Homo sapiens: one gene and its partner. The protein of the gene in region 2 interacts with the protein of the main gene of each other region in a biochemical or structural test. Each region holds a gene or a part of one and is shown on either strand. Other genes may lie near its edges.

Region 1 (11,416 bases), on a different chromosome or scaffold from region 2:
ATTGTATAACAATACTCGATAACATCTATTAAGTTCTTTGTGTTCTGTGCTAAGCATTTTACAAAGCTTCCCTCATTTAAACCGCACAACAGCGTGGTGAGATAGGTATTATGACAATCCCCATTTTATAGATGAAGAAATTGAGGTTCAGGTAAACGAATAAACTTGAGGACCTTTGCCTCCAGGAGGCAAATTCGGGCAGGATTAAAGCTCAGTTGGCTTGAATCTAGAGCCTGAACATTGAACCATTTTGTTCCAGGAGCCTTGAGCATTTGAGATGGAGTGAGGCCATGTGGAAGGGGCTGTGGAAGGTTCCATCTAACAACTTGCTAGGCAGGTTGGGGCAGGAGGAAGTGCTCTGTGAGAGGGGCCTGGGAGAGAATCAGGAGAACAGGGTACAACAGCTGGTGAGAGTTTTGCTTCTGGTAAGTTAAAATGCTGAAAATAAGTTTGTACAGGACATTTTTTATCAATTTCCTTTTATATTTGACATGGCAACTAATAAAGGGGCCAGAATATTGAGGGAGGAGATGTGTGGATGGCTGGTGAGAAGGGAGCACTCCCAGGTTTGGCCCTCTTCAAAATTTTGCTGAGAGAGAGGCTTGGGGCAAACTATTCCCACAGGATACTGGGGAGTACATTTGTGGGAAGCCACCATTGAGCTATTTTGTAAATATTTTGAATTTCATAAAGCTTAATATTTTTCCAACCACCGATCTGCCTACTTTTTACACCCAAGTGTCCTGTAGAGGAAATTTGATCTACATATTTTGCAGTTCTTTATACCCCAGCCATTTAAAATGATATTTAGCAATAGTTTGTTTTAAGAAAAAAAAAACAAAACACAAAAAACTCCAAGACCTCTCTCCAGTCTTTTGTCAATAATCTCTTTCCCCAATTTGGGAATCCGCTTCTCGTGAGTTAAATCCACTTGACAAAATTTAAAATTCAACTTAGTGATATTATTTAATTTCCTATAACACTTTATGGCTAGTGAAGCACTTTTTCATACACCATGTTTCAGGCCTAGCCAAAGAAAGAAAGAAAGAAAGAAAGATCTTTCAGTGTATTTCTTTCTTTCCATCCAAAGTTTGTTGAACATTTAGAAGTCAAGCTCTGTGTCTGGGGAGGTTATAGACCATTTGAATGTGTATTATGAGCATATTTGAAGATGTGCATATTTTGCATCAAATGAACATTCGCTGACAGTTCCCCACTCTGTCTCTCTGATCTCGAGGGGGCAAATGCCCTGGAGAAGAGAGAAGTGATGGGGATGAGAGTGTGATTTCTATGAGGGCAAGAACCCTGTGTAAATGAAGTAACCATATTAAATTGGAAATCAGTGGCTTGCTATTTAGAGATAGCAGAAGATCTCCCAGTTTGCAGGCTTCAAAACTTCCAATTTGTGATCAAACAGTTCCATTTAAATGGGGTAATCAGACAAAACCCCCAAAGCATAGAAAAGCAAATCAATTCAATTGTTCTGTTTAGATATAGACAATGCCTGGAGAGCAAACCATTACAGCTAAGAGAGATCTTTAAGTGAAAGAAAAGGAGAAGGCTCCATTTCAGCTTATTAGGTAAGAAACATAAGGAAACATATATACAAACAAAAAACAAAACCAAAAACCCAAGCAAACAAACAAAACAACAAATACCAAATTAGTTTTCTACTGGCATTTCCTTTTGTGATGGTTGCAGCATCCCAAGAGGGGTTTTGTGCTTTATTAGCTGAAGTAAGAGAATCCTAGGCTGAAATGGACTTTGGAAGGTTTTACTCTGTCTTCAGAAAAGCTTTCATTCTAAGTATCCTAGAAAATAACTCTCTCATTATCTTTCTCTTTCTAGAAGTCATCAATAACTTGTTTTTTTCCACCTAGGAAAGTTGTAAGTGGTGAGTAGCTACTGTTAGGTAGCTACTGTTAGGAGTGGCAAAGTAGGCTTCTCATGCGTATAATACTAATGATAATAGCTGCAATTTTTTTGTGCTTACTAAATGTGCCAAGCATGCTAAAATACTTAAACAGATACTATTTAATTCTCAAAACCCACAAAGCAGGTATGATATGATTATTACCCCTTTGTAAAATGGGGAAGCTCAGAGCACAGAGCAAGCTCAGGTTGTCTGATTTCCTTTTGAGCAGTGTGATCTAACAAGGTCAAGAGTACTGCTGCTTCAAGTATTACTGTTGCTGTGTTCCCTGCATTATACAGAGGACTTGAATTTGTCTAATGTCTTGCCTGGGAAAAGCAGCTCAGTTCTCTCTGAAAAGGAAAACCCAAGACAGAAAGCGTGGATGTGGAAGAAGGTAAATAAACGCCACCAGTTGGTCAGTAACCACAGAAGCTAACAGTAGATCAAATTCTCATTCAGGAGAGGTAAGCTTCTCTTGTACCTATAATAACTTTCAGAAAAAACACATGTCTGGAAAAGTGTGGAGGACTCACCGATATTGGCAGTGGGCTGCTGTCAGCACCCACTGTGGATCAATCAGAACACCTCCACAAACGTGATGTCCGCCATACTGGATGGAGGCCATAAATGGCCTGGAATGAGGTGACACTTCTTTCCCTCCAATAATTTCCATATTGAAACCTACAAAAGTAGACCAAAAGGTTTCACACAAAAGATCTAAACTACTGTTTCATGTAATTCTTCCAATGACAGTCACTATATTATTTTCAAAGCTTAAAAAACAACAATAACCCTACCTAAAAGCTACAATAATTTTACTGATGAAAAATTTGTATAATACATTACAGTTCAGAAAGATAGGAATGATTGTGAAAATAATTTTCATCTATAATATAACAATATAGTCAGTAGAAATTCATTTAATGTTTACATGTAGATATAGGAGATACTTACACACATGAGTCATATAAGCCCCAACTATTAGGAAAAACAGAGAAAAGGAAGAAAACTTAGTCATTTTAAAGATTTAGATTTAAGAAGCCCAGATGAAATGTGTTGATCCTGTGATGAAGGAAGAAGATTCTGAAGACTGAGTTTTGTTCTTGTAAGTTTTGACTTTCTCACCACAGGTGCTCTAGGGGTAAGATTTTTTTTCACACCTAGGTGTAAACGTTATGTATCAGTTTGGGGACTTTCAGGTCTGTGCTTTTAGCACTTTTTTGTTTTGTTTTGTTTTGAGACGGAGTCTCTCTCTGTCGCCCAGGCTGGAGTGCAGTGGCGCGATCTCGGCTCACTGCAAGCTCTGCCTCCTGGGTTCACGCCATTCTCCTGCCTCAGCCTCCCGAGTAGCTGGGACTACAGGCGCCCACCACCACATCCGGCTAATTGCTTTTAGCACTTTTTTGGGAGAGGTATGTATGCCATAAAGAACTCATATCTGGAGATACCATCTCTAATACCTGTATCAGAGTACTTATGCTATAAAGAAAATTTATACTATATGTGTATATAATATTTATAAATGAAAAATATCCATGCCATAAGAATGTAATGAAGTTGCAGACAGAGTTCAAAGATGTCCATTGCTCTCAAGCAATACTTACTATTTTTCCTGGCACAAAATGGTGCCTATCATATTTCATTCTTCTCTCTTTTTCATTTGGACATAGATTTATGATGAAGAGAGACATGGACCTTGCACAGATTATGGTTACTTCACAATGTGGCTTAGCTAAAGCCTGAGCACCAACCAGAGAAAACCATATGTTTTGCAGCAAACATCCCTACTCATGTCGTTTCTCTAAGTTTGCCCAAATTTGGTTAAATTTTAGTTACATTTTTGTGAGATTTCATAATGTTGTTAAAGGTGAACATTGGCAACTATTTTTGATTCAGAGTCTCTCTTTTACTCATTTTTAATTGAAAATGGCCATGTGTTTTTCCAGGGACTTAATAATAATGTCTTTTAAAAATAAAGGACTGCATTTTGTAATTCTTCCCAGGAACAGATGACAATGCATTGCCAGGCCTTCAATACAAAAGGTATTAGACTCAAGATTCTACAAGATTCTGTTTGTGCCAGACACTGATCAGCAGTGCAAATATAAAATGAATACAAACAGATCACGCATCAGAATGCCAATCACTTCCTAGTAACACTGATCAAAATTTGCATTAAATCAACAGATCTTTCTTTTAAGAGGTATGCATTTTATCTTCCATTCATTTTAGAAAGGAGAATTAAAATCCAGAGCTATTATGCTCGGCAGATTGCAAGAGACTCCTTTCAAATTGTTTTCTAGCACAAAGAGTAGGAATAATAAAAAATAATACTATAATTATGTATTATTCATTATAACTTAATAATATATAAGTAAAATACCTTATTTCCAAAATTCTTTTTATATGATCATTTATGGTTTCATGTCTATGTCTTTGAGGAAAGCAGGACAACTTATGTTACAATGGAAGAAATAAGTTCCAAGAGGCTAAGTAATTTGCCCAAGGCAACACAGCTTATGACCTAGACCAAATCACCTGCCTGACCTCCCTGTATGTTAAGTTGTATGTGAATGAGTACCCTCCCAGAACACAGAATTTTATAAAAAACCTGCTTTCCTTGTACAGGTGTGTGGCAACAGTAAAGCTTTCTACATGTTAAACAGAATGAACAAAACCAACGCAGAGCAGTGACTTCCTGTCAGAGCAGAAGGTGAGATAAGGAGGAGCCAGATTAAGAAAAGCCACAAGCTTAATAAACCAAACTTATTACTCCCACTCAAATGTCCCTGTGAATTTTCAAGTCATCTTTGTCACTGTTGATGTACCTTGGATGCTCTACTGTGTGCCATTGTTCCACATTGGAAGGCAGACAGGATGGCGTCAGTTCCCTGCTACATCCCAGTGATGCTGGGATCGTAAGGAAGATGGTGTGTGACAGGTAGAAGTGATCCAAACTCTAAGGAAGAAATAAATTGTAAAGGACGAAGCTTTGTGTGTGTGTGTGTGTGTGTGTGTGGCGGGGGAAATGGGAATGGTTACAAACATCTCTCAGCTGCTTATTTCTGAGTAGTAAGGATTAATGTCCACATAGCGTTGTACAAATTGCTGAACGTTTTTAGCTGTATTTCCAGGGAAGTGGTTGTCATTAGTCTTGTTTTATGGATAAATAAACTGAAATTCAGGGACTTGCTTGAGATTACCGAGCTAGCAGGTGGCCCTTAAGCTCCTATGTGCTGGCTCCCGGCTCTATGTTCCTTTCAACCTGGCTACATGCCTGCCTCCTTTGAGAAGTCCCTGGGGGTTTAGGGGCTCTGAGACACAAGCTAGCTGTGCAGAAGAGAAAAAGGATTTAGCCATACACACTGCGTGTAATTAGACATGGGTGAGATTTAGTTCAGTTGGGAAGAGTCTCATAACTCTTTCTTGTAGCTGACCTAGAAAATTCTGAGAATCATGTTGGTTAATAGTAATGAGTTATTTGGTTTTGGCTTTAGACCGATTTGCCAGTTAATAGTATCATTTGTTATTATATTCACGATTCTGGATTTGAGAACAGTGGGCTGTGTAACATGATGAGCTCGGCGATCTAATTTATTTCTGGGTGTTGGTTTTTGTTCTGTTGAGTCTGCTGCAGGGAGGGCCATGTTTGCTTTGGATGGCTTTACAGCAACTGTACCGGACTGAGCAAGTGCAAGGCTGTGCTCAGAGGAGGGCTGGCTTCACACGTCATAGCCTTGTGGCTCTTCTTTGCTGTGTTTAGCTGTCTTTCTTGCTGCTCTTAGAGATGTTTTGTTTCTGCTTCTCCTGTGTTTCAGGAGACCCTTATAGAACAGCTGTGCCACTGCTCCAAAGGCCTCGTGTGGTTCTATCCCTTGGACTGCCTTTCTTCAACAGCCCAGACACCTGCTCTGTCAGATTTATAAGCCACACCCCCTAGAGCCATGCCAATCAAAGCATGGCCCGCAGACCTGTGCCAGTCTCCGAACCTCTTTGTTACCGATTTGGAGCAAGATGGGGACAGAAATTGAGAGCCAGAGTTTAGAAACTGTAACAGCGACTTAACATGGCACTGTATTAATTTATTTTATTAATGAAATAAAATTTGTCCAATCTAATAAAAATTGGGTGTGTATTTTGTATGCCTTTGTTTTTTATTTAATTACTTTTTTCTATTTATTTGTGTTGTATAAACGTATCAGTTCACAATGGGCTGAAACTAAAAACAAACAAATTAACAAACTAAAACTCCAAACACATTGGTCTTTCCCACAGGTAGTCTGAGAAACACTGCTCTGTAGACATAAGTGCAAAGCAGATTTGTTTCAAGCTCTTCCCATTTATTCCCTTTTACATTCCTTTGAAAAATGTTCTCAATATCAAGTTTTCCCAAGCTATCCAACCATCCCCAGCCCTTGGCACTTGACATCAGGATTTGGCAGAATTTCACTGGATCCCTCCCTTGTAGCCCACCACCCTTCAGGCCTTGACTTCTGTCCAGTAATGGCTTAGCTAATTTGGTAAATGTATCTGCTAACACCCATAGTGAAACTATGGCAGCTTTGAAAATTGGGCTTGGGAAGGATATTGGGGTGCTATATAATGATATTAAGTCCGAAGTTCTCAAGAAAATGTAAATCTCACCTCAGATTACAGCCATCCCTCCCACTAGGTCCTTAAAATGAATGAGCTTAAGGGCAGTTGGCAAGGAAAGCAAAGTACCCCTCAACTCAGAGCTGGGGCTGTAATAAGGGTTGGGGCACCTGGAATACTGCCTTTTCCTAAGCAACTTAAATGTAAATACTTCAGAGGGCTGCTCTAGGGCCTCTTCTTGGTGGAATGATGGTGGTGGCAAAGGTGAGATTGAGGGAAATTTGTTTTGTCTTCCTCTATCTCAACTTTAAATCAGAATATATTTTGCATGTTAAATCTTCCTTTCATAAATATGAAGATACGTTTTCTAAACCATCATTATTGAGTTAAGTCACACAATAGTACTTCAACTTCCTTTTCCTTTACTCCTCTCCACGTCAGCTATGAAGTGACTGGAATGGATGAGAATTGCCTTAAGTGCAGGATCCTCACATATGGAGTAATCAGGAAAATACCTTGAGGACTTGGCAAATAGGGATGTCCCAGCACTGCTGGTGCTGGCTGCCTGGTCATACACTGTCCCTATCTCAACTTTGTCTCCAGGCCTTACACTGCCCTTTTATGACTCCTTTTTCTTTTCTTCTTTAGAGCAGGCTTTGATGTTCATTTTAACTAAGTTCAAATGTTATGGGTGGGATGAGGAAAGTGCCACATGGGGTGGTCCCTGTGATGTCGCTGGACTCAAGACAGATCACTCACATTGTCCGCAATTACTTGTCCTGAAAGATTTGCACATGTGGAAATCCTTTCAACAGTAATGACTGCCAAAGGAAGGTTTTCAGCTCCAGGCTCGTAGGTACCCTTGCCTTGCACAGAGGAAGGTGAGGACTATATGAGCCTACCAGTATTATAGGGAGAAAACGGGTAAATATGTAGGCCAAGTTAAGGGAAAAATACCAGAGAAGGACCAGGTAATAAAGACCAGAGGAAAGGTGGAGGCAGGAAGGGAGGGAAGAAAATAAATACTGTTGAATAAAGAAGGAAAAATGATCAATTGAGGATGGGAGGCCTTATAATGGAACACTTCCATTTATATTTGAACATCTCAGATACACTACTGTGATACAGTACTGTGCCCCAAAGCCAAATATGTTATCATTGTTTTACAATAGAAACAGATACATTACAAGAAATAATCTCATCATGCTGAAAGCAATTAAATTGTTTAACTAGTCAGGATGATTTTACAAAATAAACGAAGTCACAGCAGGCAAAGTAGTAGGAATTTCAAAATGAACGACCACATTCATTAATGAGGGAAACACAGTAATTGCTATGGTCAAGCTGGAACACAGCAAGTGTTATCGATTGATTCAGTATTCACTAATTTTCCATTGAGAATCAATTCAAGTAGAAATCTAGATATGATATACTTTTTCCAAAAAGTGACCAAACAACACACACACATACACACACACACATACAACCTTCCCCTCCCACCCTTTTTTCTATTAGGAAATGAAATAATTATATACACTAAATGAGATGGTAAATTAAAAATAATGTTTAAGAGAGGAAGGCATAAAGGAAACTATCAATAAGTTAGAGCATAGAAGACTTTTGTAAGGTAGAAAATACCATAGGCAATATCCAAAGACATATGGCAAAATGCTTGTCACTTACATTGAAAGCATTTCCCCCCAAAGACAATATCTTTAATATATGAAGGGTCCTTATAAATAAATTTAACAATAAGTGGGCTCAATGTGAGCAAATCAATATGAAGACAAATAAAACAGTATTTTAGTTAAACTACCTCACTAGGGACCTGGTATATAAATGATATTTAGAAATAATTTTGATGACTATTACAGGATAAATAATGAAGCACATTTTACATTTTTGCAAGGCTTAATAAACATAAGTTTGATATGCTAAGAACACAACTGCTATAGCAAGTATTTGATAAAAAGGCTGCAGGCTGAGAAGAGATTATCAACAAAAGCATAATCTTCTAAATTTTTTTTTGAGAAGTTACCAAGTATCTTCTTTATTATTTTTAATTAATGAATGAATTAGTTTATAAATTTATACCACATTCAACTTATTCTACTAGGTATAAGCAAATCACATTGAGAATTACAAAAATTCCAGATGCATAGATCGTTCACAGACTATATATACTCCAGTAGGAAATATGAAGGACTTAAGTTGTTAACCATAATACCACATAAGGACAATATGAATGGGAATATTCAGTGCATTAGTTATGTTACAGAAATATGTGCAAATAAGTTTAAAATTAAGGCTTTGATGTAAATATTATAGAAAATACAATCATATATTTGAATTGCTAGTTACACTAGATAATCCCAAACTATATTCTTTTTTTTGTAATTTTTTTTATTATACTTTAAGTTCTAGGGTACATGTGCACAACATGCAGGTTTGTTACATATGTATACATGAGCCATGTTGGTGTGCTGCACCCATTAACTCGTCATTTACATTAGGTATATCTCCTAATGCTTTCCCTTCCCCCTCCCCCCACCGCACAACAGGCCCCTGTGTGTGATGTTCCCCTTCCTGTGTCCAAGTGTTCTCATTGTTCAATTCCCACCTATGAGTGAGAATATGCGGTGTTTGGTTTTCTGTCCTTGCAATAGTTTGCTGAGAATGATGGTTTCCAGCTTCATCCATGTCCCTACAAATGACCTGAACTCATCCTTTTTTTATGGCTGCATAGTATTCCATGGTGTATATGTGCCACATTTTCTTAATCCGGTCTATCATTGATGGACATTTGGGCTGGTTCCAAGTCTTTGCTATTGTGAATAGTGCCGCAATAAACATACGTGTGCATGTGTCTTTATAGCAGCATGATTTATAATCCTTTGTGTATATACGCAGTAATGGGATGGCTGGGTCAAATGGTATCTCTAATTTTAGATCCTTGGGGAATCGCCACACTGTCTTCCACAATGGTTGAACTAGTTTACAGTCCCACCAACAGTGCAAAAGTGTTCCTATTTCTCCACATCCTCTCCAGCACCTGTTGTTTCCTGACTTTCTAATGATCGCCATTCTAACTGGTGTGAGATGATATCTCATTGTGGTTTTGATTTGCATTTCTCTGATGGCCAGTGATGATAAGCATTTTTTCATGTGTCTTTTGGCTGCATAAATGTCTTCTTTTGAGAAGTGTCTGTTCATATCCTTTGCCCACTTTTTGATGGGGTTTTTTTTTCTTGTAAATTTGTTTGAGTTCATTGTAGATTCTGAATATTAGCCCTTTGTCAGATGAGTAGGTTGCAAAAATTTTCTCCCATTCTGTAGGTTGCCTGTTCACTCTGATGGTAGTTTCTTTTGCTGTGCAGCTCTTTAGTTTAATTAAATCCCATTTGTCAATTTTGGCTTTTGATGCCATTGCTTTTGGTGTTTTAGTCATGAAGTCCTTGCCCATGCCTATGTCCTGAATGGTATTGCCTAGGTTTTCTTCTAGAGTTTTCATGGTTTTAGGTCTAACATTTAAGTCTTTAATCCATCTTGAATTAATTTTTGTATAAGGTGTAAGGAAGGGATCCAGTTTCAGCTTTCTACATATGACTAGCCAGTTTTCCCAGCACCATTTATTAAACAGGGAATCCTTTCCCATTTCTTGTTTTTGTCACATTCATCAAAGATCAGATGGTTGTAGATGTGTCGTATTATTTCTGAGGCCTCTGTTCTGTCCCATTAGTCTTTATCTCTGTTTTGGTACCAGTACCATGCTGTTTTGGTTACTGTAGCCTTGTAGTATAGTTTGAAGTCAGGTAGCGTGATGCCTCCAGCTTTTTTTTTTTGGCTTAGGACCGTCTTGGCAATGCAGGCTCTTTTTTGGTTCCATATGAACTTTAAAGTAGTTTTTTCCAATTCTGTGAAGAAAGTCATTGGTAGCTTGATGGGGATGGCATTGAATCTATAAATTACCTTGGGCAGTATGGCCATTTTCACAATATTGATTCTTCCTATCCATGAGCATGGAATGTTCTTCCATTTGTTTGTATCCTCTTTTATTTCATTGAGCAGTGGTTTGTAGTTCTCCTTGAAGAGGTCCTTCACATCTGTTGTGAGTTGGATTCCTAGATATTTTATTCTCTTTGAAGCAATTGTGAATGGGAGTTCACTCATGATTTGACTCTCTATTTGTCTGTTATTGGTGTATAGGAACGCTTGTGACTTTTGCACATTGATTTTGTATCCTGAGACTTTGCTAACGTTGCTCATTAGCTTAAGGAGATTTTGGGCTGAGACAATGGGGTTTTCTAAATATGTAATCACGTCATCTGCAAACAGAGACAATTTGACTTCCTCTTTTCCTAATTGAATACCCTTTATTTCTTTCTCCTACCTGATTGCCCTGGGCAGAACTTCCAACACTATGTTGAATAGGAGTGGTGAGAGAGGGCATCCCTGTCTTGTGCCAGTTTTCAAAGGGAATTCTTCCAGTTTTTGTCCATTCAGTAAGATATTGGCTGTGGGTTTGTCATAAATAGCTCTTATTATTTTGAGATACGTCCCATGAATACGTAATTTATTGAGAGTTTTTAGCATGAATGGCTGTTGAATTTTGTCAAAGACCTTTTCTGCATCTATAGAGATAATCATGTGGTTTTTGTCTTTGGTTCTGTTTATATGCTGGATTATGTTTATTGATTTTTGTATGTTGAACCAGCCTTGCATCCCAGGGATGAAGCCCACTTAATCATGGTGGGTAAGCTTTTTGATGTGCTGCTGGAGTTGGTTTGTCAGTATTTTATTGAGGATTTTTGCATTGATGTTCATCAGAGATATTGGTCTAAAATTGTTTTTTTGTTGTGTCTCTGCCAGGCTTTGATATCAGGATGATGCTGGCCTCATAACATGAGT
Region 2 (10,454 bases):
TGCCCAACATCACTAATCATCAGAGATGCAAATTAAAACCACAGTGAGATACCAGTCAGAACTTACACCAGTCAGAACTGCCTATTATTAAAGAGTTGGCTGGACATGGTGGCTTACCACTGCAATCTCAGCACTGAGGCGGGAGGATCGCTTGGGCCCAAGAGTTCAAGACCAGCCTGGGCAACATAGTGAGACCTCATCTCTACAACAAATTTAAAAAATCAGCCAGGGATGGTGGCACATGCTTGTAGTCCCAGCTGCTCAGGAGGCTGAGGCGGGAGGATTGTTTGAGCCTGGGGAGGTCAAGGTGAGACTGACCTCAAATGCCACTGCACTTCAGCCTGGGTGACAGAGTGAGAACCTGTCTCAAAAAAAAAAGGAGGGGGGAAAAAAAAAAGGTCAGGTGCAGTGGCTCACAGCTGTAATCTCAGCACTTTGGGAACCAAGGCAGGAAGATCACTTGAGCCTAGGAGTTTGAGACCAGCCTGGGCAACATGGCAAGACCACATCTTTTTTTTTTTTTTGAGACAGAGTCTTGCTCTGTCGCCCAGGCTGGAGTACAGTGGCACGATCTCAGCTCACTACAACCTACGCTTCCTGGGTCAAGTGATTCTCCTGCCTCAGCCTCCTGAGTAGCTGGGATTACAGGCGCTCGCCACCATGCCCAGCTAATTTTTGTAGTTTTAACAGAAATGGGGTTTCACCATGTTGGCCAGGATGGTCTCAATCCCTTGACGTTGTGATCCACCTGCCTCAGCCTCCCAAAGTGCTGGGATTACAGGTGTGAGCCAGCCACCGGGCCCGGCCAACCCTATCTCTTAAAGAAAAAAAAAAAACACCAACCAAAAACATTAGTTGGGTGTAGTGGCTCATGTTTATACTCCTAGGTACTCCGAAAGCTGATGCAGGAGGATCGCTTGAGCTCAGGAATTGAAGGCTGTAGTGAGCTATGATCACTCCACTGCACTCCAGCCTAGGCAACAGAGTGAAACCCTGTCTCTAAAAGGGAAACAAAAAAGAAAAAAAAAAAAAAGACTGGTGTCATTGTTAGAACTGCATCAAAGGGCTGGGTGCAGTGGCTCCCAGGTATAATCTCAGGACTTTGTGAGGCTGAGGTGCAAGGAATGCTTGAGGCCAAAGTTTGAGACCAGTCTGGGCAACACAGTGAGACCTCATTGATACAAAAATATTAAAAAATTTTGCAGCCATAAAAAGGAATGAAATCATGTCCTTTGCAGCAACATGGATGCAGTTGAAGGCCATTATTCTAAGCAAACTAATGCAGGAACAGCAAACCAAATACTACATGTTTTCATTTATAAGTGGGAGCTAAACATGGGTACTCACGTACATAAAGATGGCAACGCCAGGTGTGGTGGTACACATCTGTAATCCCAGCTACTCGGGAGGCTGAGGGAGGGGAATTGCTTCAACCCAGGAGGCAGAGTTTGCAGTGAGCTAAGATTGCGCCACTGCACTCCAGCCTGGGAGACAGGGTGAGGCTCCAGCTCAAAACACACACACACACACACACACACACACACACACAAAGAGCAGGGCGGGCTGAAAAACTATTAGGTACTATGTGTAGTACCTGGGTGATGTGATCAATCATACCCCAACCTCAGCATCAGGCAATATACCCAGGTGACAAACCTGCACATGTACCCTGTGAATCTAAAATAAGTTAAAATTATTTTTAAAAAACAAACAAATAAAAAGCAACAACAAAGCCCCAAGAATTAGCTGGGTGTGGTGTTGCAAGCCTGTGGTCCCAGTTACTCAGCAGGCTGAAGCAGAAAGATCACTTGAGCCTGGAGTTTGAGGCTGCAGTGAGTTACGATTGTGCAACTGCACTCCAGCCTCGGCAATAGAGTGAGACCCTGTCTCTACAAAAATAAAAATAATAAACAAAGAATTGTGTGAAAAGAAAACCTCGGCTGGGCGTGGTGGCTCACACCTGTAATCCCAACACTCTGGGAGGCAGAGGCAAGCAGATCACAAGGTCAGGAGTTCGAGACCAGCCTGGCTAACATGGTGAAACCCTGGCTCTACTAAGAATACAAAAATTATCCAGGCATGGTGGCACATGCCTGTAGTCCCAGCTACTCAGGAGGCTGAGGCAGGAGAATCGTTTGAACCCAGGAGGTGGAGGTTGCAGTGAGGCAAGATCACGCCACCACACTCCAGCCTGGGTGACAAGAGCCAAACTCCGTCTCAAAAAAAAAAAAAAAAACAGGAAATGGTATAAAGGTGTTTGATGTGTCTTTTGAAGGCTGTGTTAACAGAAGGATTCTAGCATTTGTCCAGGGCCGTAGCTCCCGGGCACTCTGGTGCTCTCAGCTGCAGGGACTCAGGGCACTCGGGCTGCACGAGGCACCACGGTGCGTGAGGAGTCCCTGCAGCAATGCTGACAGAAGGTTCTCACGAGTGGGGAATCGTTCAGGACCTGGTGACTGAGGGTCCGGAAGACACGCAATGCCTGCGGTCCGTTCCGTAGTGTCCACCAGCAACAACATGGATGCTGCAGGCTTCTCCTCCTTACAGCTTTAAGCACTAAAGGGAAATTCTCAAGGAGACCAAAAGGTCCCACGCTTCCGGCGCTTCCATAAAGTTTCTGATTCTCTTAAGACAATGATGTTCAAAGTGCTCCTAGGATGCCTGGAGATTAGTATCTCTGATGTACAGGTTTATAAAATTTACAGGGCTGTGTACCTAAGACGTACGGCCTGGACAACATGTCTGCTCCATCACCGGAGCCTGCCACGTGCCTGGCAGGGAGGCCGAGTCTCTACTCGTTGCATTGCCGATGGCACCTGCCAGGATGCAGCTGGGTGCGGAATCCAGGGCACCACCGGCAGTGGGGAGCTGTGCAGAGTGGGCTGCTCTCCGGCCCCAGCCACGGGGTGCCGGGGCAGGGGGTGGGGGTACTCACTGCACAGCTGCTCGATGGTGGCCCACTGCTCAGACCTCTTCCATGTCTGGGCGAGCTCCTCATTTCTGGTCCGCACGGCCTCCAGCAGCAAGCTGATGCTGTCCTACAAGAAGCCAAAAGGAAGGTTCCTCTTCGCTGTGCCTAAGGTGAGCAGCTTCCTGCTAGAACAGGTTTCTTTCTCCCCAACATCAAGACGTATTTCTGAGGACATTTTAAAAATCTTACAGGCTATCACTATAAAATGCAAACTGCCACAACTTACATCTATAAACGCAAGTGCTAAATTGAACTAGAATTTAAATTCTTCCCAAATAGGCCCAAGCGGGCATCTGTGCCTCTGCCTTGTGCTGACGGTGCTCAACAGCCCGGAGGATAGGAGCTCATGCCTCTCGTCCTGGAGGCTGGGATGGAGGGCGGAAGTCTTGACTGTGAGACGTGTCCTCCTCCCTCACATTTCATCCCTCTGCCTCTTTCTCCTCTCGTGTCTGGAAAAATGCACTCTCTATCCTAGCCTTCCGAGTCAAACTGCAGGGGATTAATGCATTAAGGATGGGCGCAGTGGCTCACGCCTGTAATCCCAACACTTTCAGAGGCAGAGGCAGACAGATCACGAGGTCAGGAGTTTGAGACCAGCCTGGCAAACGTGGCGAAACCCCGTCTCTACTAAAAATACAACAATTAGACAGGCGTGGTTGCGGGCACCTGTAATCCCAGCTACTCGGGAGGCTGAGGCGGGAGAATCGCTTGAACCCAGAAGGCGGAGGTTGCAGTAAGCCAAGATTGCGCCAATGCACTCCGGTCTGGGCAACAGAGCGAGACTCCGTCTTAAAAAAAAATAATTCATATATGAGAAACGGATAAAGCCTTCAGGAGCTCTCAGTACCTCCAGAGAATGTCTTCCAACAGATGACTGCAAAAATAGTGCAGTATACTAGCAAGGTGGCTCTGGTGTAGAGGGAGCCTCACCTTTCACCACCTGTCCAGACAGATGGGCAGCAGCTGAACCTCGGAGCAGGAGGTGCAGTTCCCTGGGCTGACTAGGGAAGGCACAGGCAGGGAAGAGGCACAGGGTGCCTGATGTCAAATACCCGAGTGAGTGGTTTTGAGACAAAATACAGACACAAAATAAACTAGCAGGATACAAGAACAGCTATAGGCTTCCTGACAGAGAAAGGCCGGGGGAGGAGGAGCCTCTCTATTCTGTCTCCTTCAGGGAAAAGTTCTGAGTCAGTGGCGGAGCAGCTCAGAAAGAATTTGCTCCTTTCTCTTTGGCATTTCCTGTTGGCTTGAACAGTGAAGAAAAAGCCAAAGTCGGACCCCTACACACGGCAAGAACCTCCTGGGGGCTGCTGCCCACTGGCCCCCACTACCCAGAGCAGCCACTTCTGCAAAGCACTCGCCCTCTTCTCCCCCAACGGTGTCTCTTAAAAATGCCAACTGTGCAGCTGTGAGCTTGGGGTCTGGAAGCTGGCCAAGCCTTCTGGGCCAAGGCAATAAAACCAGAGTTGATTTAGGAGGAGGGGAGATATGAGTAAAAAGCAGAGGCTGTGACTCTGAAACTGTTAGAACAGGAATTTTTTAAACTGTCTAACTCTAATGCTGGAGGCAGAGCTAAATCACCTCTGCTTCCCATTCGATTGTAACAGATGAAACCGTACTTCCTCACAGAGGTGCAGACACTCAATGGAAATGCTAAAGGTGAAAAAATTAATCTTTCTATCAACAAGCTTCTTGTGAAAAGCTGCTGCCTACACTCTGCCCATAGGACAAATGAGGGGGACAACCTGTGACCCCGAGCTTTGACCCAGTTTCCCAATCATGCTCTGGTCTGGGAGGAAAGAAAGCAAGACACAGGCGTCTCTTTGCAGCCAAAGCCCACTTGCTCAAGTGGACACCACACTTGGACACGCACCTGCAGAGGCATAACTTCATTGGTGACCAGGAACAGCAAGAGGTGGAAATCTGAGATGGTATCCAAGAACACAGATGAGGTATTCTGAGACAAATAGGTGGCCAAGCTATGGAAGTCCTAGAGGAATGGGAATAAACATGAATGTTCCATACAGTTCCCCAGTGCCAGACCCCGAAACAGAGCTGTTTCCTACTAAGACGCAACTCAATACACTGAATGCTGAGACACCTCTCCCTCTGCCTCTGCAACCACGAACAGGGTCCAAGAAAGAGGAGCAGGCAGCTGCAAAGCAAGCTCTTGCTCTCTTCTCCCAAGAAGATGCTCTCAGCACACCTGACTACCCAGATGTGCAAGGAGACATGCTTATAAAGCTGACTCAGACTGGCCAGGTGTGGAGGCTAACACAGTAATTCCAGCACTTTTTAGGAGGCCGAGGCAGGCAGGTGGTCAGGAGTTCGAGACCAGTCTGGCCAACATGGCGAAACCCCGTCTCTACTAAAAATACAAAAAAAATTACCCAGGCTTGGTGGCGCGCACCTATAATCCCAGCTACTCAGGAGGCTGAAGCAGAAGAATCGCTTGAACCCAGGAGGTGGAGGTTGTAGTGAGCCAAGATCGCACCACTGCACTCCAGCCTGGGTGATAGAGTGAGACTCTGTCTTCCAAAAAAAAAAAAAAAAAAAAAAAAAGGCTGACTCAGACAGAGACACAAACATGGAAATGCGCCCTGGTCCCCCGGTGGAGAGTGGGCTGCGGGAGGGGCCTGGGGCCCCCTTCACGGCAGGGAGACAGGTCTGACTTTTCCTGTCGAGCTGTATTCTCCATCTAGGGCAGCAAGAGGGAGGAATGTGCAGGGCAGCCGTGATGCAGCACGGACATCTTCAGCAGAACCAAACACAGAGCTTCAAGAGTGCACCCCAATAACTGGCTTTGCACCTCTGTGAGCACCCCAAGTCCCCTGGGCGGATGGGCACTGAGGGGATCAAAGCATAGAAGAAGCTTTGTCAGCCACTGAAGAAAACCTCATTATAGACATTCTTTGACCACCTTCTGAAATGTCTGTTAGCAAGTTATGATTTAAGAACAACCATGTGTACACAGCCTGTCTACACAGTATGCAGGCGTGACAGCAAATCGGACCTGGCCTGATCTGCCAGTGAGAGCAGAGGCCAACACGGGAGCCACGCTAAGCAGCAGATCAACACTACACACGGGAAAGCCGAGGCCAGGCCGAGAGGGGCCACACAGCCCCAAGGTGCCTAAGAAGGGCAGCAGGTGACCAGGCAGGGGCCAGGCCAAACCAACAGTGACGAGGCTGCTGGCAGAAGACACAAAGCAACACATTTGGGAAAATTACGAGGTCCACTGAAGATGTGGCCAGTCAGGACGTCAGGGGATTAGCCTTTGTGGCCGTCCATCACCTAGCCATGGGAAGGGCGTCCACGTGACCAGCAGTGCCCCACAGTAGGCCCTAGCTGGCCTGTCACAAGAATGAATCGGGAGCATTTGAAAGCTTGATGTTTTCTGGAAAAACAATACTGACACTAGATAACAATCAGCAGTTACCTTAAATTATGTTTCTAAAGACAAAGAGCTCACCTGTGTCTCACCCAATACATCCCGGTTTTCAATAGGAAATGGATTTTGCGAAATAGAAAAAGTGTAAACTGGATCCTTGGGGAAAGTTGTTGTGATCTAATGAAGAAAAACACAAACCCATGATAAATGAGGCTGAAAATGGTGTGGCCGACTCCCAGCCAGCCCAGAGCATCTCCCAGAGCCCAAATTAACGACTCCTAGCAATTCTGAGAATGTTCTACAAGCTCTCCATCAAAGGGAACCGTTATCTATTAGTGTCATCTCTAAACGAACACTTGGAAACTCCGCCATCCTGGAGACAAACTACACCATATCCGGGCAGCCTCCGGCCTGTGCACCGGCCTCGACGTCGGACAAAAAGGGCACTGGGACTCCCCTCGTGGCACAGCTTCCCTTCAGAGTCACACAGGTTCTCTCCCTCTGCTATGGAGGAACGAAAGGCTGGTTTGGCCCCTTGGCCAGGTGACAGGAAAGGAACGGAAGGGCCAGGAGGCCGCCCCAGGAGCTGACTTTGCTCAAGAGAGATTCGTGTCATTGGATTCGGAGGGCAAATGAGCAATCAGCCAGCTTTCAAGACACAAAGCACCCTTCAGCAGCTCACTAAGCCCCTTCTGAATGCTGGGAGCCACTCCACGGAGCTGTGGGCTTTTCCAGGCAGGGGTGAATGTAAGGCCCTTGAGGAACACAGGGTTCAGCTCTTCTCTCTCCCTCAGAGCTGATACCCAAAGGCCAGCTAAGTCCTTCAGTCCTTCACTGGCTCAGACAGGCCTTAATGACAACAGAGGGCACTTTGCACCTAAGATATAATCAATAGATGCTACAGGGACAGTGGTAAATGTGCAAGAATCAATAGAAATACCACTTTTATTCTTCGTGACAGACACCCCTCCCCAAAGCAGCACCGAGTTGAGTTGATGCTGCTTTTCTCTGCAACACAACAGCAGCAGCAGAGGTCACACCTCTTCCAGATTTAGGGGAACTATTCTGGTTCCTTTGGGACTATTTCTAAAGAATGAGTGTGGTTCTGGTCTGTTTTCTGCATCAGCAAAGGCAGTGAGTTGTTGAGCTAGCTGGCCCAGGATTTGCTGTGCCAGCGCCAGCCGCTGTGGAAGGACAGCTGAGCCACCAGCAGCATCTCTGGCCTGAGCTGGCCCTTCATGGGCAAGCGGCGGGGTGGGTCATGAAGACTCGGGCCGCGGTGCCACGTGTCGGCTACATGGCCTCGTCAGTTAGGGATCCTGGGCCTCACTTTACTCTTCCTCAGGATGAAGATGATCGGAGTACTCGCCTCCTGGGTGCCCAGCACGGGGCTGGTACACATAGTGTTGGTACACACAGTGCTGGGTCCCAGCTGAAGACAGGGGAGGTGCTGACCTCCTGCAGAGACAAAAGCCTGGCCTGCTCAGGCGCGTCCCTTGGGAAGGCCTAGAAATGAAGAAGGCGGCACCCCCAGAACACGTGCTAGTGAGTGAGCTAGTGGGACTGACGGGGGCTCTTGCTGGCCTTGTAACTGGCCCTTGGAGGGGAACAGAACCAAAGTCCACACAGCCCATCCCAGATGTCCCAAGGAAGGGCATCAGCTCCCATCTTACACTGAAGCCATTTCCCTACCCTACCCATCGTCTATCAGCCAGATGATGCCCCCAGAACCCACAAAGAAACCCCAGTAACACTGGCTGGTGCCTTTTCCTGCCTGCCCAGCCATCCCATCCCAAGGTTTAAGAACCTTGGCTGAGGCCAGCGCCTGTGGCCCAGGGCTGGGCATGGAGCTTGACACACCTCTCTGGGCACCTGCTCTCAAGGACTCCCCATGCCTCACTTCCACAGGGTCAAGGAGCCTGGGCATCACAGAGCAGAATGCTCTCCCACAAACAAGTACTTCTGAAAAACTGCACTAAGGCAAAAACTTAACTTCCTTTATAAAAGAAGAGGAAAGAAGTGGGGAGGCTGCTTGGGGTAGAAGACCTGAGAAAGCTGGTTTTAAATCATGCCTGCTCCTCCTGGGTGCATGCTCCATCAATCTGTTTTCATCTTAATTACACCCTAGGTAGTCTAAAAACCAGATGCCTTCACGGCCTAGGTAATAAATATGTTCTCGGGAGCTGTCAGTTGGAATGGTGCATCGATGGGCTTGGCTCGTGGGGACCTGCTGTTCCGAATGCAATGATATTTTACTGCCTGAATCACGTGCCCATCCAATTTCAAATGCAGCCTGAATAGATCCTGGCGTGGCAGCAGCATAGGAAATGAGCCGCCTCCCGTCCGCTTTGGACAGAGCTCCGGTGGGGCTGATGCACTGGCTTCTGCAAAGGCTCATCCTGCCATCCTTGCTGCCCTGTGGCCAATGGTACAGCCATGTCTCCATGACCATAAAATGCCTCCAAAAAGGAGCTGAGACACAGGGAAGATGTGGAAGAGCCAGGGGCCTTTGTGGCTCCTGGAGTTCCACCCAGTAAACCACGCTGAGCCCTCACTCAAGAACACTGAGTTACAGGTGTGTCCCCTGGGGACCACCCTGGACGGAGTGACCCAGACACACTGTGGGCTGTGGCAGCTGTGCTGGGGCTAGGGCAAGCACCTGCACGTGCAGGACAGCTGACAGCCACACACCAAGCACAGCACATCTGGACAAGACTGCTTGATGCTCCGGTGACTGGAGACCCAAGCAATGGGGGTTCGCTGCCTTCCAGAGGCTGCCTAGCCTGGGGTCAGTGGTCCTTTGTACTTTAGTATGGGGACAGTTAACCCCTAGGTTGACGTCAAGGAAATAAAAACCTGAGACTAAAACAAAAAGCCCTTAAAACTGTGAGCATTTCAGCAACACCGCATGCTCAGTGATTCTACAACCACCTCCTGGGTGCCTGTTCTGGGGTGGGCACTGCTCAAGGCAGAGGGTGCCTTAAATTGCAGCCTCCTCCCTTGAGCAGCCACCACCCAGCAGTCCCACCTACAAGGCGCCCAATGGGTCCACCTGCCCAAGCTGTGCATGGGGGGCACTTACGTCTATGATGAGATACTCCACAGGCAGGGGCCGGGCCAGCTGGGTGATCTCGTTGCCAAACTTGTCTACGTCCTGCAATAGTCAGAGGGGAACAGCGGTGAGCAAAGACGATCAGTAGTAATGATTTTCCTTTCACATGCTTGTCTCACCTTTTATTTAATTAATTAATTTATTTATTTATTTATTTTTTGAGACAGAGTCTTGTGCTGTCGCCCAGGCTGGAATGCAGTGGCGTGATCTCCACTCACTGCAAGCTCCGCCTCCCAGGTTCACACCATTCTCCTGCCTCAGCCTCCCAAGTAGCTGGGACTACAGGCGCCCGCCACCACGCCCGGCTAATTTTTTTTGTATTTTTTAGTAGAGACAGGGTTTCACTGTGTTTGCCAGGATGGTCTCGATCTCCTGACCTCGTGATCCACCCGCCTCAGCCCCCCAAAGTGCTGGGATTACAGGCGTGAGCCACCGCGTCCGGCCTTCACTTTTTAAATTACTTCAAATCTTATTGAAGTGTATGGATAGCAGAAAGGAAAACGTGCATATTTTTGCAGTAAAACCACCTTCCACCATTTCTTGGAGCTCATTATAACCACAGCCTGAAAAAGCAGTCGTGCTCTCGGGCACTGGGACTCCCCACTGGGAGAGCACATCAAATGCCTCCTCTCCACCCATGGCGCTTGGCCTGGCACTCAGGCGCGATCTGCGACAGGCAGAAGGGTCTGCGTTCCCCTCAGGTTGGACCTGTGCCCTGTCTATCCTCCAAAAGCACATGAATCCTCACAGTCTGAATGCTAACTCTTAGAATCTTACTCACACCTCTGAAAACCCGACTTTCCAGAAACCGAGTACTTGGACATTAATAAAATAAAGGCATGCACAAATGAGCGCACACACAAATATGAAGACACGGGAACCCCACACCAATCTGTCAAAGTCTCAACTTGTTTTGCTTTGTCAGATGCACAGAACATAAAGTTTAATTATGGGGAAAAACGGCCAGCATATGTTCA

The links.
Region 1: of the proteins of NPLOC4 (region 2) and GZMK, one has a biochemical effect on the other in vitro, tested with the Homo sapiens proteins (one study listed by BioGRID).

Annotation. Positions count from the first base shown.
Region 1 is NC_000005.10:55,015,840-55,027,255, reverse strand, and holds the start of GZMK (granzyme K precursor), read right to left. Parts: upstream 3,001-11,416; 5' UTR 2,934-3,000; coding exon 2,870-2,933; intron 2,597-2,869; coding exon 2,449-2,596; intron 1-2,448.
Region 2 is NC_000017.11:81,562,570-81,573,023, forward strand, and holds part of NPLOC4 (nuclear protein localization protein 4 homolog), read right to left. Parts: intron 9,520-10,454; coding exon 9,448-9,519; intron 6,543-9,447; coding exon 6,447-6,542; intron 4,965-6,446; coding exon 4,848-4,964; intron 4,034-4,847; exon of another isoform or gene 3,902-4,033; intron 3,039-3,901; coding exon 2,936-3,038; coding exon of another isoform or gene 2,751-2,935; exon of another isoform or gene 1,678-2,750; coding exon of another isoform or gene 1,631-1,677; exon of another isoform or gene 1,411-1,630; coding exon of another isoform or gene 1,352-1,410; exon of another isoform or gene 1-1,351. UniProt on the Homo sapiens protein: The ternary complex containing UFD1, VCP and NPLOC4 binds ubiquitinated proteins and is necessary for the export of misfolded proteins from the ER to the cytoplasm, where they are degraded by the proteasome.